2 separate regions of the Homo sapiens genome follow, and region 1 is linked to region 2. Evidence: fine-mapped expression QTL. A gene starts in region 2. The other region holds a variant in brackets. All regions are shown on one strand. Distances are between the middles of the regions.

Region 1 (8,685 bases), 25 kb after region 2:
TGGCCTCTTTAGAGGGGGAAGAAGATAAGGGGAAGAGCAGCTCATCCCAGGTGGTGGGGCCAGTGCAGGAGGAAGAGTATGTAGCAGAGAAGTTGCCAAGTAGGTTCATCGAGTCGGCTCACACAGAGCTGGCAAAGGACGATGCGGCGCCAGCACCCCCAGTCGCAGACGCCAAAGCCCAGGATAGAGGTGTCGAGGGAGAACTGGGCAATGAGGAGAGCTTGGATAGAAATGAGGAGGGCTTGGATAGAAATGAGGAGGGCTTGGATAGAAATGAGGAGAGCTTGGATAGAAATGAGGAGGGCTTGGATAGAAATGAGGAGATTAAGCGGGCTGCCTTCCAGATAATCTCCCAAGTGATCTCAGAAGCAACCGAACAGGTGCTGGCCACCACGGTTGGCAAGGTTGCAGGTCGTGTGTGTCAGGCCAGTCAGCTCCAAGGGCAGAAGGAAGAGAGCTGTGTCCCAGTTCACCAGAAAACTGTCTTGGGCCCAGACACTGCGGAGCCTGCCACAGCAGAGGCAGCTGTTGCCCCGCCGGATGCTGGCCTCCCCTTGCCAGGCCTACCAGCAGAGGGCTCACCACCACCAAAGACCTACGTGAGCTGCCTGAAGAGCCTTCTGTCCAGCCCCACCAAGGACAGTAAGCCAAATATCTCTGCACACCACATCTCCCTGGCCTCCTGCCTGGCACTGACCACCCCCAGTGAAGAGTTGCCGGACCGGGCAGGCATCCTGGTGGAAGATGCCACCTGTGTCACCTGCATGTCAGACAGCAGCCAAAGTGTCCCTTTGGTGGCTTCTCCAGGACACTGCTCAGATTCTTTCAGCACTTCAGGGCTTGAAGACTCTTGCACAGAGACCAGCTCGAGCCCCAGGGACAAGGCCATCACCCCGCCACTGCCAGAAAGTACTGTGCCCTTCAGCAATGGGGTGCTGAAGGGGGAGTTGTCAGACTTGGGGGCTGAGGATGGATGGACCATGGATGCGGAAGCAGATCATTCAGGAGGTAGGAGGGTCTCGGGTTCGTTTAGAGGATGGGGCGCTCCCAGTATTTCTTGGAGAAAGGCTGCCAGTCTGCCTCTCCCTTCTGCTACTTGTGCAGCAAAGTCATAGTGCTCTTCAGCTCTTTATCGCAACCTGCAGAGGTCTGGACACGGCGTAGAGCTGGTGGGTAACTGAGGAGTTAGATTGCCCTGAAACCCCAAGTCATGGGAGCTGTAACTTGGTTCCTCAACCGGTGACCTTCCCCAGTGAGCCCTTCCCAAGGAACTAGCGCCAAGTTGGGCTCGCTGATTAACATTAGTGTGCCTCTTTTTCTTTGTTTAAAAAAATTATTATTATTTTGGTGCAGATGGAGTCTTCCTTTGTTGCCCAGGCTGGTCTCGCACTCCTGGGCTCAAGTGATCCTTCCGCCCTCGGCCTCCCAGAGTGCTGGGTTTATAGGTGTGAGTCACTATGCCCAGCCCATTTTTTTTTCTTTTTTAAACACTAACCTCTTTGTGTGTGCGTGTGTGTGTGTGTTTTAATGGAGAGGCCTCCTTAGCTTTACTTCCCTTGAGTGCCAGGTATGGGTGTGAGTGTTTTGAATGGTTTTTATTTCCTTTTAATCATGTGCTTGTTCCCATGTCTTCACCTGCTTTCCTTCTCCAGAAGCTCTTACAGGGTAAGTGCCCAAAGAACGGCCACAGCTTTGAATACTTGTGGGAGGCTTGAGCTTCCTGAGTTGTCGCTGTCACCTTTGCAGAAAGCCTCAGCCATTTTCTTTCTGTGCAGTTGCAGCTCCACCCCCGGGAAAGCGGGGCACTTTGATAACGAGGTGTCCTGGGTTTTTCGAGTGCTGACCCCAGCGTAGACAGTTCAGACCGCTAACTTACAGGTCAGCAGCTCCTGACCCTGCTTCTGCAGGCACCCTGGGGTGTTTTCATTTATCTCATGGAGAGAGGCCACGAATATCCCGAGTGGCTCTCTGACTTGTTTGTCCTGGAGCCATTCCCTCCCATTTCAGCTCCGGGTAGGTTGGGAATCTTTATTGGGAATTTTACCACTTTCAGCAGCATCTAGTTTGTACCACACGCTACATTTTGTCACCTCCAAGATGCTGTTAAGACACTACTGTTTTTATGTACCTTGGAAAGAAAAAAGTGCTGCCAGTCATGATTATAGAAGGCAAGATACTATATGATGCATCCTAATCTCGGGATGTTTAAATGTTTCTTAAAATACTGCATCTGAAAATGGGTGATTTTTATTTTATTTATTTTTTAAGAATAAAGGAGTTTCCCTTTGCTTACTGCCCCTCAGCTGAATTAACAAGCCCCGCAGCCTTGTCTGCCAACTCTAGATGGATAGTAGTAGCTACTCAGACCTGTTGAAGTCTTCTGAGTTTAGGCTTGAACCTAAGCCGTGGTGATGGGCAGGGAGGTTTAGGGATGGCACGTGGAAATGAGGTAATACTGTCCACGAGCATGCGGTGGGTGCCAAGCACGAGGTTAGTGCCTCGCATGTACCTTCATGTCAGCCCTGCTTTGTTTGTGAGGAAGTTGAAGCTGAGAAGGGGACCAGGGACCACCCCACTGAGGGAGCTGGAAGCTGGCCTTTGAGTGCAGCCTGCTAGAGTCCGGGTGTGGTTCTGAGCCACTGCTGGGAGCCATCGGGATGGCAGGTGTTAGCCAGTCCCATTCTGTGGGGCAGAGGCTGGATACTGTGAGTGAGCAGAGCTCCCCGCCCCCTCGCCCAGCCCCTGTCAGCCTGTTATGCTTCCCGCAGGCTAGCCAAGCAGTCTTCCCCCAGAAGGGGTACTTTTCCCTGCATGAATCCTGTTCGAAGCGCCTAGTGTTAAGGGGGGAAGTCATTTTGAAGGTGATTCTTCCTTAGCTGGGAGCAGGATCTCTTGGGCCTTAGTTCTCTGCATCCAGTGTATGGGTTACTTGGCAAAGGATTATACTCAGGGTTTGGAGAAACCATGTGGAAGGTAACCTAATTGGTAGACTCTCAGGAGTGATCTATTTCTGGTGATTGAGTCATCCATATTTAAGCCAGGGCCACTTCTCTTGAGCTGATCTGGACCCGCTTTTTTGTGACGGTCCCTTTGGCACGCTCTTGAGTGAGAGTGGAACAGCCCAGGTCGGGAGCAGAGTCTGTTCCCATTGGGTTTTCTTGGGCATGAGCTTTGGCTCAGTCTTTTGACCAAGGGAGTATTTGAGCCAGAAGAGTGTTCAGAGTTGCATGAATCAGGCCTAAGCAAAGGGAAAGGAGACTCTCCTTTTTTAGTCCACATATGGCAGAGGAACGAGCGGGTCCCCGCTAGGTATAAGAATGGGGCCCTCAGGCAGGCCAGTGAGGACTTTGTCTAGCTCTGCTGGGCTGAAGGCCAGTACCTATGACCCTGGGACTGGGCCCTGGGGACAGGAGACTGACCCTTGGTCTGAGGGGGTAGGATAGTTGGAAGGGTGTCAAGGTGTTTGTGGTCCATCGGTCTGGCTCTCAGGACCATGTGGACCTCAAGCGTGTCTCCTCCCCCGCCCTCTGGGCTCCCCTTCCCTGGGCGCAGTCTGTCTCTTCCAAGTTCACCACTTGTGTCTCTGCTCCAGCAGCTGTGGCTGGGTGCGGCTGCCAATTAAGCAAGTGGGACTGTAAGTGACAGGCTAAAATTAGGTGTATCGACACCCCCAGTTCTCCTTTCATTGGGGTTGTTCTGAGCCTTCTAGACTGTAAGTTGACAGTCACCTGCCAAGCTTGAGGAGCGGGTGTGGGGCAGGGCCTCCTGGGAATGTGAGTTTGGGAAGTTCTTGGTTACTGGCTGCTCTGAGTGGGGTCTGTGTGTGTGCGTGCCTGCTGCTTCTTCCCCTGCAGGTTCTGACAGGAACAGCATGGATTCCGTGGATAGCTGTTGCAGTCTCAAGAAGACTGAGAGCTTCCAAAATGCCCAGGCAGGCTCCAACCCTAAGAAGGTCGACCTCATCATCTGGGAGATCGAGGTGCCAAAGGTAGGGGCGGAGTCCCCCAGGCTGGTTCTGTGGTAAGCCCAAAGCTCCCTGGGGCCAGGGCCATTAGACCTCAGGGAGGGAGGGGGCTGGGAGAGGGACAGTAAACCAGAAGGAGCCCTGGGTCAGCCAAAGGCCGCAGGGAAAGGACACGCTACACTTTGCCAAGGCTCAGAGAGCTTCCTGCAACATGGAATTCCTCCAGCTGCCTCCAGGAGCATCTTATTCTTGTACTTCTCAAACTCGCAGGCCTGTGTGTCTCCCTTGGGGGTGGTTCTTGCATATTCTGGGGCTCAGATCTATTTGGAAAAAAAACACCAAGGCCGTGGGGGCCAGCCAGAATCCCTTCACTGAGCTCTGCTCAAGTGCTCCAAGTGTATTTTATAATTGAGCAAAGCATAAATCCATATTTTAGAGAACTTGAAAAGTATAGAAATACATGCAGAAAATAAAAATCAGCTCTAATCCTACCCTTGAGAGTGACTGTGAAAGACTTTTATTTCCTTCTCATCTTGCACCCTGTGGTTTTTAAACAAAACTGAGATTATGTCGCTTTAATTAATACTTTAAATATTTAACAATTTAATTTTCGTGTGTTATTCTTTGAAAATGTAACTGTAACTGCATTATTCACTGTGTGGATGTCAGTTTACTTCATCAGTCCCCCATTCCTGAGTGCTTAAGTGGTTTCGAGCTTCTTGCTATTAGAACTTACAACATATTAGCTTGATCTTGATGTTTATCTCTGGGGCTCAGAAATAATTTGTCAGACCGCATTCTCCCAGGGCCCTGGGCTCTGTGCTCAGGTGGAGACTTGGCTTGGTCTGAACTCTGGGTCAGAGTGGCTGTTTTGACC[C/G]TGGGTTGCGAGGTCTCTTGGTGGTTTCCTCCCTGGGGGGCCCTGTTATCCGTCCTGCCTGCTTTTCCTTCAGTGGTTACAAAGGGCATGAAGAGAAAGGCTGTGCCTGAGGATGGACCATGTCCCCAGTAGCTCCTCCGGGAGGGGGTCGTTGGCGGTTGTGTGGGAGCCCATCTTACGTAAGGGCTAAGTTTGGCTGCTTCTATCTGCCTTGAACTCTGGCGCACTGGGCACTTCTGCATGCCTCCTGCTCTGCAGGCTTCAGCCTGCTGTCACTTGGCAGCGGGAGCCCAGGGTTCTTAGACCTTCATTTTCAAATCGAGCCCCTTTATCTTTGGATCTGAGTAGACTTGAGGGAGAGGGGCACGAGAAATCGAGAAACTGTGTGCTGGTGAAACTTCTCAGCATGGCTTTTAGAGGAGAAGATGCTGCTGCCTTTGCAGCTTTCCGGGTCTGGGCCACATTGTTGGGATGAAATGGGAACTGCTTGGTCCTGGAGCCAGACTGCCTGGTTCGACTTCCTGGTTAGCAGCTGTGTGACCTTAAGGTAGTTACTTAGCCTCTCTGGGCTTGTTTCCCCATATACAGAATGGTGATAAAGTTATCTGTGTTTCACAGGTACTATGAGTAAATGTAAGTGCTTAGAATAGTCCTGGAAAATAAATGCTGACATGGTAACAGCTAATATGTTTGAGCATGATCTTGTGTAAAACAGAAGTAGGTCTTTGGGTGTCCAGGGAATTGGTTTCCCTTTAACCCTCTCATCTCTTTTTGTCTTTCTGGAAGCACTTAGTCGGTCGGCTAATTGGCAAGCAGGGGCGCTATGTGAGTTTTCTGAAGCAAACATCTGGTGCCAAGATCTACATTTCAACCCTGCCTTACACCCAGAGCGTCCAGATCTGCCACATAGAAGGTCAGTAACATCTGCTGCTTGTATTGCCTCTTACCTGAAATATTAAATAGAAGTGAATAGCATCTGAGTTTCAATTGCTATCTTTTTGGAATAGGAAACCCTGCTTCTCATCCCAGGGAAGGGAGCATTAGGTATCTTCCCTGCAGCCTTTTCCCCATTTCAGGTGCCTGCGGGAGACTCAGGTCCCTCCCTACTCTGATCTTTGGCCAGGAGAAGTGTGGGTGCTTGGTTGGGCGGGGCCTGGGTCCTGGGTTCATAGTGCCCACCACCCCATAAAGGCTTCTCTCAAAGCAGAAGTGCCCTGTGTGCAATTCCCCCTTGGCATTTTCACAGCTGCCTGCCTCTTCTGTTGCATTGAAAGCATGGATCATAATGGCAGAGGTATCATTTGAAAGGCTTAGATGCCTTTCTTCCTAAAGCAGAGCTTAAGTGTTTTGTTACCTCAAAGATGCACTTGAACTCTATGCAAAGTCCAGTGGAGTGGGGTCTGTGGCTGTGTTTTTGTGAGTGTGGGTGTGAGTTTCCTCTTACAGTGATTGTATGTCCTGCCCCCATCCGCTATTTAGGCTCTCAACATCATGTAGACAAAGCGCTGAACTTGATTGGGAAGAAGTTCAAAGAGCTGAACCTCACCAATATCTACGCTCCCCCATTGCCTTCACTGGCACTGCCTTCTCTGCCGATGACATCCTGGGTGAGCGTGCTACTGGGTGATCCGGACTTCTTGCCACTTTCCCCCAAACCTACCCCAAACAAGAAACTCCCCAGACCTCAGGCTAAGAAGGCCAAGTGCACATGAGTGCCTGCGCCCTCTCTTCTCTGGCCTCTGCTGGTCGGTTCTGCTATGGGACTGTGTTCTGGGGACAGGGCTTAGGTGGTGATAGCGCTGGCAGGAAACCAGAGGCCTCTTGGTCCCCACATGGGAGGACTACTTTTCCTGGCTCTCCCCCTGGGCACCTTTTAAGTTTTCTAGGCGTTTGCTTAGAAAGGATGGTGTAGTTCGGACAGGAGATTGGGTGTGTCCAGGGTCGCCGTTCACCACCTGAGACCTGGGTGGGACTAGAATCATGGGTTTGGATGGCGCTTGTTCTTTCTTCTGGTTGAGTCAGGCCTTAACAGTGGCCCTGGTGAAGGATCTCCTTCCCCTTCCCCTCCCCAGGAGGTGCCTAAATTACAAAGAAGAATGAATACTCCCCACCAGGCCCGGAAGTCCAGTGACTCTTGGGAGGTTGCCCCAGGAGTTTGGCAGAGGGAAGAGCTGCTATCTCCAGGGCCCCTGTGTGCTGCTGACTGCAGGGTCTCTCAGGGCCGTGGCCCATATCCTGCCGTGTGCCTCTGGCCCTGGTTGGGTCTTATCTCACTGGGAGTAGAATTGCAGAATTCTGTGGGCCAACGACTGTTGACTACGTTTTACACAGATGGACAGATGGGCTGACTATAGCTCCAAGGAAATTGTCCTCCTTCGTGTTTTTTTTTTGTTTTTTTGTTTTTTTATGGATGGTAGGCATTTCAGTTTTGTGTCTTCCCCTTTGCAAAGGCCCTTGGGCTGGAGGGAAAGGATTGGGATATCTTTTTCCTGTGGATATGTGAGAGTAGGCTGAATACCACTTTATGCTTTACTCCTGAATCAAGAGTTTTTTCCCAGGAGGCTCGGTCGTAGACTCACTCTCTTTTTTTTTTTTTTTTTTTTTTTTTTGAGACAGAGTCTCACTCTGTTGCCCAGTCTGGAGTGTAGTGGCATGATCTTGGCTCACTGCAACCTCTGCCCACCAGGTTCAAACGATTATCCTGCCCCAGCCTCCTGAGTAGCTGGGATTACAGGTGTGCTCCACCATGCCCAGCTAATTTGTATGTTTTTAGTAGAGATGGGATTTCACCATGTTTGCCAGGCTGGTCTTGAACTCCTGACCTCAGGAGGGTAAGCAGTAGGAGGGAGAGCAAATAGGAAGCAGACTCTGCTAGACCTTGACCATGGACCTGACCTGAGGCCACTGCTTGCTCTTGGGAGGGCAGCGTAGATGCTGTCAGACCATAGGCTCCTGGGGTTGTCTGCCAGTCCACAGGAGTTGGCTAAAGGGCCTGGGGCCTGCCTACTGCTTATTTTCAGGAGTCTTGTTCTCAGCGGCCACCTCATTCCTGTGTTGCCCTCCCTGGGTCTTATAGATTCATCAACAGAAGTGGGAGGGAGGGCACTGCTGGTAGGTGGACCCTGCCCAGGCCTGTGCAAGGCCCAGCACTACCTCCGCAGTTGCTTCTTGGTTGCCCAGTGTCTGTGGGACCCTCCCTGCCTGGCCCTGAGGTGAGACTGCCCCTAATGGCTGCTCGTGGTATTGCAGGACAACAGCCACAGGGGTGTCGAACACTTTCTGTTGTTAAAGTAGTCCTTCAACCTCTACCTTCTGGGTGCCATGTTGTCTTGAGTTGCCCTTTTCAAAGATATGCTAGCCCAGAGACTTGCCCTTGGGTCTCGGGACTTATTCAAAGATGAGATAAGAAGGATTGTTTCAGTGACCGCTCCCCCTTCCCCTCTACAGCTCATGCTGCCTGATGGCATCACCGTGGAGGTCATTGTGGTCAACCAGGTCAATGCCGGGCACCTGTTCGTGCAGCAGCACACACACCCTACCTTCCACGCGCTGCGCAGCCTCGACCAGCAGATGTACCTCTGTTACTCTCAGCCTGGAATCCCCACCTTGCCCACCCCAGTGGAAAGTAAGCAGTGCCCTGAGGGGTCGGGAAGGGGGACCCCTGGGGTTGCCTGTTCTGCCCTGGATCCTGATCAGGAGGAGGCTGTTCTGCGATCCTTCATGGAAGCAGCATCCTTCAATTCTTGCCATTGTTATGGAGCTGGGGTGGGTTTCCTGGCAAGGCAGAGCTGGGGTTTCCACTGGCTGGCAGAGTGATGGGTGTTGGAGTAGAGTTTTGACACAG
Region 2 (8,804 bases):
CAGTGCCTTTCATCAGTCCGATCATGGCTTCTCTCCTTAGTGAGAATGATCAGAAGGCTGCTGGGTGGGTACAGAGTCAGAGTGAGGGGCTTGGGTCATAGAATTTAAATGAATAATAGCATTGGGTTCAGATCTGACTGGTTTGACTTCTCAGAGAGCCCAGCTTCTTGATTAAATGAGATTGGACACCTTCTTCCTTTCACAGACACTTACTACTTCTTCTATTTTTATTTTTATTTTTATTTTTTTGGTCTCCTTCGAATACTTTTATTTTTTACCTTCTTATTCTGACTGACATACTCCTTTCTGGATAAAATGTTTTGCTCTATTCACCAGATTCTAATTTGTTGTTGTTGTTGTTAAGGTCAGGATTAGAGTCTGATAGAAATGATCCATAACTAATCTGTACCGAAAAAAATGCCGTATTTATAAGATCATGCAAATGATTTCAGGGTGTTGTGGACAACCTTGATGTCCCAGGTTAAATTCCTATGCATCCTAGGTTAAAATTCCTGCCTTAGGCAGACCTTGCCCATTTTTGAGCTGACAAAGCTGAAGCCTAACAACCTTATCTTATTTTCCTCATGGCCAAGTTCTTAGGATCACCTTCCACCCTCACCTCTCTTCTCATTCCTCTACTTTCTAATCTTATATTAGGGCCACCGTGGTGACCTTGGAACTGTTCAGACCTTGTGGATACTTCCTCAGCCACAGGTACTGGGTTGAGGTCTAATGGTGATTGTAGTCAATCCTATTTTCTCACCTTTCCCCCTTTGACTTGTATCTTGCACTTTCTCTAGTATTCCAGTTAACACACTCCTCTTTTCTTCCCTCATTCCTTTTTTCTGGCAGGCTGTGCCCATGTCCCCTTGCATCGGGTATGACTGACATATTTCTCTCATTCACCGCCGGTCTTTGTCCTTCTTTCTCATAACCATATTCATAGCCCCATCTCGCTGTTTTACTCCTTCCATCTTCCTGTTTTTCTTTCCTACCAATGCTTCCAGGGCTTACATCCCTGGACATCATTTTCTCAGTTTCTTTCTATTCCTACCTCCACTACTGCTAAGCATTGCCTTTTTTTTTTTTCCTTTTTTTTTTTTTTTTTCCCCGAGATGGAATCTTGCTCTGTCACCCAGGCTGGAGTGCAGTGATGCGATCTCAGCTCACTGCAACCTCTGACCCCCAGGTTCAAGTGATTCTCCTGCCTCAGCCTCCCGAGTAGCTGGGATTACAGGTGCACAACATGCCTGGCTAACTTTTGTATTTTTAGTAGAGACAGGATTTCACCATGTTGGCCAGGCTAGTCTTGAACTCCTGACCTCGTGATCCACCGGCCTCAGCCTCCCAAAGTGCTGTGATTATAGGTGTGAGCCACCGTGCCCGGCCTAGCATTGTCTTTAATATATCTTTTTAAACATGATTTTCAAACCATATTTGTATTTCCCATTCAGACCACTCCTCTGAGCTCCAGACTTGCATATCCAACCTAATTACTATTTATACTTTGATGTCACAAAAACAATGGGTCAAAAATGAAACCAACACTTCTCTGCCTTCAGATTTCTCCTTCTCAGGAAATTGCACCCCAGTTCACATTGTAACTCAAGCCAGAAGAATCATCATTCATTGCATTCATTGTTCCTTTTTCTTTACCACCAACAACATGAGTAAGTCTGCTCCTCTTTCAAAATATATCTTAAGTCCAAAGCAGTGTCTTCATCCCCAGAGCCATAATCCTTAGCTCAAACTAGCATCATTTCTTACCTGAACCACGTCCAGCATCCTCTTTCACTACTCTCCCTGATTCGACACTGATCTCTCTCTAATCTGTTCTTCCCACAGCAGCTACAGCTTGCTTTTAAAAACAGAAATTATGTCACTCTCTACTTAACCCTCTTTAATAGCTTCCTATTCATTCACGAAACACATTTTTACTGAACACCCTCTATGTACCAGGCCCTCAAAAATCCCTGCCCTCATGAAATAAATGAAGTCTAGACAGGGGTAAGGGTTATGAAGGAAAGATGGGGTGAGGGATGGGGAGAGAGAGAGAGAGAGAGAGTGTGTGTGTGTGTGTGTGTGTGTGTGTGTGTGTGTGTTTACAATTTAAAAGAGAGTCCAGGCCAGGCACGGTGGCTCACGTCTGTAATCCCAGCACTTTGGGAGGCCGAGGCGGACAGATCACCTAAGGTTAGGAGTATGAGACCAGCCTGACCAACATGGTGAAACCCTGTCTCTACTAAAAATACAAAAAATTTTAGCTGGGCATGGTGCCACGTGCCTGTAGTGGGACTACTCTGGCGGCTGAGGGAGGAGAATCGCTTGAACCTGGTAGGTGGAGGTTGCAGTGAGCTGAGATCGCACCACTGCACTCCAGCCTGGGTGACAGAGACTCCTCAAAAAATAAAAAATAAAATAAAACAGAGAGTCCAGGGAAGACTTCACTGAGTCTGAGTAGGTGACCTTTGAGCAAAGGACTTGAAAGAGGTGAAGACAGTGAGCTTTGCAGAATATTCCATGTGGAGGGAGGCCCTGAGGTAGAGTCATGACTGGCTTTGGGACTGAACAGAATAGAATAAAATCCAAGCTTCACTATTTACTATGGCAAATACTAAGTATTTACTAAGGCAGCCCAGGCCCCTATTCCCCCAAAAAACAAAGACAAGAAACGATCCTCTTTATCTCCTTTCCTGACACTCCCTCCCTCAATACATACCATCCACACTGGTCTTCCAGTTTACCAGAAGTTGTTTCCTGCTTTTTCCTGTGTTGTGCATCTGCTAGGAATACTCCTCCAACCCTTATGCCCGTATACAATTTGCAAGGCTGGTTCCTTCTCATCCAATGGGTCTCAGTTTAAATTTCATTTTAGGCCTTTTCTGACCACAGGACCTAAAACATTTGGGCTCTTTTTGGCCGGGCGCGGTGGCTCACGCCTGTAATCCCAGCACTTTGGGAGGCCAAGGCGGGCGGATCACGACGTCAGGAGATCGAAACCATCCTAGCTAACACGGTGAAACCCCATCTCTACTAAAAATACAAAAAATTAGCCGGGCGTGGTGGCAGGCGCCTGTAGTCCCAGCTACTCGGGAGGCTGAGGCAGGAGAATGGCGTGAACCTGGGAGGCGGAGCTTGCAGTGAGCCGAGATCGTGCCACTGCACTCCAGCCTGGGCGACAGAGCAAGACTCCGTCTCACAAAAAAAAAAAAATAAAAAATAGGGCTCTTTTTCTTTCTTTCCTATGTCAGTTTCCTATTTGTTTCCTTCCTGACATCTACCACACCATGCAATTGGGATTCATATATATATGAATTTGACTTAAATCTCATTAGGTATAGTAAATGGCATCTGTCATTTAAACTTGCATTTGATCACTAGTGAAGATTAAGCATTTTCCCAAGTAATTGTTAGTTCTTAGCATGATCTATTTTCTATATTTTGGCCAAACAAATGTTCATTTAAAGTCACTTTGTTTTAAGGATGACAGCAGGGCTGGACAGCCAAAACCCTACCCTCTCCATTTATTTTGGAGGAATTTATTTTCCCAAGGTCCTGGCAGAGATAGTGACTCACCGTGACTATCTCTGCAAAAATCATTCCAAAACCCACACCAATTCAGAGAAAAGTGCTTCATTTCGATAACATCGACTTGTGAAAACGAGCAAGAAAGTTGCATTTGAGTGGTACCAGGTTTCACCATTATGCAGTTATCGAGCAATTATTAATGGCCAACCCAATTATACGCTACAAGGAAATGACGGTCACAGGGAAGCTCAAAGCCCCGAAGCGAGGGAAGCCCTGCTCCTCACCGGCCCCTCCGCCTTTTCCAGGGCGCTCTCCGTCCCGAGGCAGGAGATGGCCTGGTTGACCCTTCGAGACAAGGCGGCAAAACCGGTGCTGGGCTTGCGGGGCAGGGAATCAAGGTTCCTCCGGTTGCTGTACCGTCCCGCCCGGCCCCTCTCCCGGGCACCGGAGAGATGACGGCTCTCTCGCGAGAGCGCGAGCAAGACCCGGCTCCGGGCGGCGGCGGGATGTTAGCCCAGCGCTGTAGACCGCGCCCCCTCTGGCGCAGCTGGGAGAGGCGCGGCGGAGGCACTGCCGGGAGCGGCCGGCGGCGCGCACGCGCAGGTGAGCGGGGCGGGCTCGGGAGCGCGCGGGCACAAGGGCGAGGGGCGGGGCCTGCGTCGCGCTGCGGGCACGTCGCCGCGCGTCTTCAGTATTTAATGTCTCTGTGTTCCACCCGCCTGGGCTAGCACGTGGGGGAGCTGCGGAAGCGCGGCGCTGCGGGCCGGGCCGCGGGGCACAGCCGGGGGCCGGCGGCGGCGCGCGGACTCCGCATCCCGCACCCCGATGGTAGCCGAGGAGCTGGTAGGTCGGGGGCAGCTGCGCCGGGGACCCCCTGCCGGAGACCCGAAGGCGGCGGGGTCGGGGCGATGGGGAGCCTGAGGTGCAGGTGCAGGGTGCGACGCGCCCTCCAGGTACCCCGGGGGCGGGACGCTCCGGACGCAGAGGTGTCCTGGGGGCTCTCGGCCGCCGCGCGCTGTCAGGCAGGCCCATCTTTCCCTCCCTCGTCTGCGCCCCCTCTCGTCCTTCCCCGCCGGTTGTCTGCCCGCGGGCTCCTGACAGATCGCGTGTGCGCGGCTCTGGGCGGCGCTCTGCGGCCGCGCCGTCCTCCCCACGCGCGTCACTGTCCTCGGGGGCGGGGGGCGAGGGCGCGACGCCCGGGTCGCCTCTCTGCACCTCAACTTAACCGGAGCGTGCACACCCGCCTGCGAGGCTGACCCGAGCGCGTCCCACCCAAGGTCGCCCAGCCCCGCGGGCGTTTACTTTTCAAAGGTCGTGTGTACACAGTCTGAGCCGGAGCTGCCCCTTCACTTCTGGAGCCTCGCCCAACTTCTCACCCTCGGCTCGCCCGCCGGCGCAGCCCCTGGGAGTTCCGTGCGGCGAGCCAGGGGAACTGGGAAGATGGGCCGGGACATCGGCCGGTTGTGATCCAACCGTGTTTCGGGCTGAGGGACCGTTCGAACCGAATTGGGGTCTGGAGGTCGGAGGCTCAGGGGCGTCTCGGGGGGAATTTGCATTCGTAGCCCCTGCAGGCGTGTCCGGAGGGGTGGAGGCCGTCCAGCCTGGGGTGTCTGCCGACCTCACGCCCGGGGGCCCCGACGGTCACGTGTCCGGCCCCGCCTGCGGCCCAGGGCCCGGGGTCTGCGATCTGGAGGGACCGCGCCAGTTTTGGGGTTACGATGTGCTAGGAGAGGCAGTGGCTGGATGCCTCGAACGCGGGCTTTCTGGCGTTCAACTCTTTTGTGCCCTAGCTGAAGGTCTTCCTGTTTCCCTTCCAGGGAGGGATAGGAGAAGAAAGGTGCTGATCGTGGTAGGCGGTGCTGTGGCGACTCGGAACGGCATGGGAGCCCTGGGCGTTTCGGGATCTTCCTCTCCTGGGGGATGTCCTGGGTGGCGGCGCCTTCCTGCCGCCGTTAACACAAACCCGGTGGACTTCGCTCCAGGTGCGAGTCGAGGCCTCTCAAGCTGGGTAGGGTGTATGCGCAGGGCAATTAGTGAGGTTAACCTGGGTATCTTTCCCCTACTGTAGTGCGCGTTACTTCGTGTTTAGATTTGTCTCCAGTGAAATCTAGGCTGCTGGACCTGGTGCAACAGTATCTGTTAGTTACTGATCAAGGAACACCGTTCACAAAAAGCTATTAATTCTGGCAACTAGTAGCCTTACAAGCTCTTGTAACTGCTAAGTCCTTCCCAAATTAGTACCTTTTTTTTTTTTAACTCTTTATTTAGAAAGCAAAGCTTGGACTCTTAGCACCACCCATCCACTTTGCTCTTAAAGGTACAGAACATCTTTGAAATGAAGAAGGCTGCCTGACTTGATCATTTATATAATTCCTCTGATCTTGGCATTGAAGTGGTTCACCTGCTGATTATTTAAGACCCTGAGCACTGGAAGCAAGTGAAGTTATGTTTTGGGAACCTTTTGACTTGTGTTGAACTTTTCTTTAACCTCTAACTAGTTTTGTAGGTTCTGCATAATTCTTGGGTGTATTCTCTTTGAAATATGGCCCTAGGTTAGAGGAGGTCCTCTGGATCCTACAGGCATGCAAATCACTAAAGCTTGAGTCCATTACTGGATTAATAGGCTCTGTCTTCATGCATGTTGTCAGATGATGGCTCAGAACTTGCAGGTAACAGATCCTAGCCAATGAGTGAGACAGGTCTAATGGATTTGTGTCTAGGTCTAGTTCCTTGTAGGAATATCTCTCCCATCTCCCAGTTGTTTCTAGGAAATGCATTCTCACTTGGCCACTGCAGGGTGACAGTGGAGGTGTCTGTTGTAAGTGGCCTGCTCAGGTGCTGAAGTCGATATGTCTCCAGTGTAAGGTTGCTGAACATCAATATTTAAAAGCAATTTATCTTGCTGCCTGGTAACCCAAATTATTCTTGAGCTTTGGACATAGGCTGGGTTGCAGCCATATTTTAGGGGAAGGCTGGTGTTAGCCTCTACAGTATTCCCTTTTCCTGTCCTAAAGACAAATGGAGATCATATTTGTGATACTGGGGACTGTGATAGGTGCTTAAGCATTGCTCTTCCCCTCTCCTCCCTGAACAATCCCTGAGACTGACTTTGTTTCTCTTGAATTACTTGAGTGACTTGAATTCTATTAAAAGCACCCCTCTCCTTAGCCTCTGACCCAGAAGCTTGTTTGGGAGGAAAAACGAATTGGTTTCCCTAAGCTTTGCTGGCTAGCCTCCTGCTCCCAGCCTGCAACATGACTTGATTGTGTGTGCATTTCAGGGCTTTGAAGAGCAGGCAGCTTGTAGCCAATGTACCCAGAGAGCTGGCCGTAGAGTTCCCCTAGGTCACTCCTTCCTAATCTTCCCTGTGAGTCTGAATGATTGGGCCTTTCTGTAGCTTGGTCTGTTTTCCTATTGTGGGGAAGTCAGTTGTTTCAGGTATGAGTTAATACCTTCAGCTTGTCATTCTCAGGCGTTTTCTTCCACTATGGGGAGGTAGTAGATCCTGTGGGCATCTTGTCCCATTGAAATCATCTCATATACTGTTTGAGAGTTGCTCATCTTTATGGTGGGGGGTGTATTTTAGTCCTAAATCTTGCTTCTTAGGGCAAGTTCTGTTTCTTCCATGTTCCTTCCTGGTGTAATACCTCAGGCAGTTTTCACTTTTATGATCATTTAACATTAAGTTCCCATCACATGTGGCATCCCACTGAAGGAACCTCCTGGCCTTGGTACCTAATTTGAAGCTTGGGCTGTGGAAAACATCATCAGTGAGCATGTTTGAAGTAGGACAGAGTCTGGCTGGAGAAACAGGTAGTGGGGGAGCTGGGAGCTAAACTTGAGAGGATGCCTCTTTCTTGATAGTTACTGTGCTAGGTGAGTTATGAGCACACTAATCCTTTAATCCTCACACCTCTGAGAACAGTGAGGGTGAAGCTGGAGGTCATTCTGGATTGTTTCAGTGGCTGTCACACAAATTCAAATTGAGGGGTAGAGGAACTAGGAAGCGTGGGTGTGGAGTTAAAACTAGGTCCTCTGGATGGCTTTTGTGAGAAGAACCAAGGAATATTCTTAAATCCCTGGGCTTTTCTCCTAATCTTTCTGCTGCTTTCTAAGTAGATTGTTAACATTGTGTGTGTTATCATTCAGCATTCTGAGAACTAGCTTTCCAGCAATAAATAGCTTTCAAGGTGTCCTTTGCCTTAACTTTTTCATTTTACTAAATGGTGCAGCCTTGTCCACATTCTGTCCGGGTCTTCACCATCTGGTTGTTTTTCCGGCTTGGTTTGATAGTTTGCAGCAGTCAGTGGTAAACATTGTGTTCCCTGTTCTGTAATGGTGGCTGGTTGTGTTCACCGAGCCAGGTGTCACTAAGGCCCAGTTGCACTTGGGAGCAAAGAAGGGCCCTGAGGTGAGTCCTGGAAGTAAAAATATGTATAACCTAGGGCTGATGAGGCTTGTTTCACTGCTGGGCTTAGCTGACAAGAGCCTGGGACTTGCTGCAGCTCTCAGAGCTGAAACCTGGCGGTGATTCTAGGCAGGCTGGTTGGCCTTCCAGATCTTGGTTTATTCAGTGGCTAAAAGAGGTTTGGTCAAAATTATCAGTATTCAGATTATGGTCCTGGGAGCCTTGGAGTTAGACCAAACGTGCCCAGGGGCCACTGGAGTGATGTGTTTGGGCTGGGGAGCACAGCTCAATGGGTAGTACATGTCAAAGACTTAAGGGGAAAAAAAACAACTCACTGTTCATCTCAAGTTCTTAGCTCTAAGGTGTGCTACTGTTCTAAATATTTTTTATTTTTAAAGATAGCTTTATTTGCCTAAATTTGTCCTGGGTGTGGGGAGTTTAGAGCTGCCTTGTCTGTAGGGTAGCTGCTAGCTGTGTGACTAATTAAACTTTTCAAAGTATTTTTAAAAAAATTTCTTAGTGACATTAGCCACATTTCAGGTTCTCAGTGGCCTCGTGTAGCTAGTGGCTGCCGTCCTGGTCAGTACAGGTCAAGAACATTTTCCATAATCGAAGAAAGTTTTGTTGGACAGCGCCGGCCTAGAAAGTTTTTTTTTCTCCAACTCTAAAAGCTTAATTGTCTCAACTTGTAAATCTCTAAAGCATAACATGTTTGAGCTTAGTCTTCCAGAGTCCATAAACCCAACAGCTTTGGTGACAAATTATCTACTGGTTGTCTCCATGGCATACTACAAGTGAGTTCTAGTCTGCCAGTTGGGAGTGGACGAACAGTTTTGAAACAGTTTGAGTGAGGACCTTCAGAAAGGAC

Alleles and levels. Alleles are on the strand shown, and positions count from the first base shown. SD is a standard deviation of normalised expression in the study named.
In carriers of allele G in region 1, the expression in subcutaneous fat of the gene that starts at base 4,219 in region 2 tends to be higher than with C alone (small effect, 0.32 SD a copy in TwinsUK).

The links.
Region 1: its variant is fine-mapped to the expression of AKAP1 in subcutaneous fat (TwinsUK, PIP 0.95).

What each region holds. Positions count from the first base shown.
Region 1 is chr17:57,106,171-57,114,855 of GRCh38, forward strand. It overlaps AKAP1 (A-kinase anchoring protein 1), which reads left to right. Exons shown (of 11, transcript NM_003488.4): 2 at 1-1,008; 3 at 3,855-3,988; 4 at 5,628-5,754; 5 at 6,321-6,448; 6 at 8,289-8,466. Among named protein-coding and RNA genes, the nearest start is that of AKAP1, 25 kb to the left of the region's middle. RefSeq lists an enhancer at 2,699-3,300 and a silencer at 7,898-8,192. The variant C/G (reference allele first, on the strand shown) is at 4,842.
Region 2 is chr17:57,081,028-57,089,831 of GRCh38, forward strand. AKAP1 (A-kinase anchoring protein 1) reads left to right here and starts at 4,219. Exons shown (of 11, transcript NM_003488.4): 1 at 4,219-4,371. It overlaps AKAP1-DT (AKAP1 divergent transcript), which reads right to left and starts at 4,011. Exons shown (of 3, transcript NR_186437.1): 1 at 3,813-4,011. RefSeq lists enhancers at 3,676-3,755, 4,795-5,297 and silencers at 3,976-4,555, 4,596-4,895, 5,176-5,265.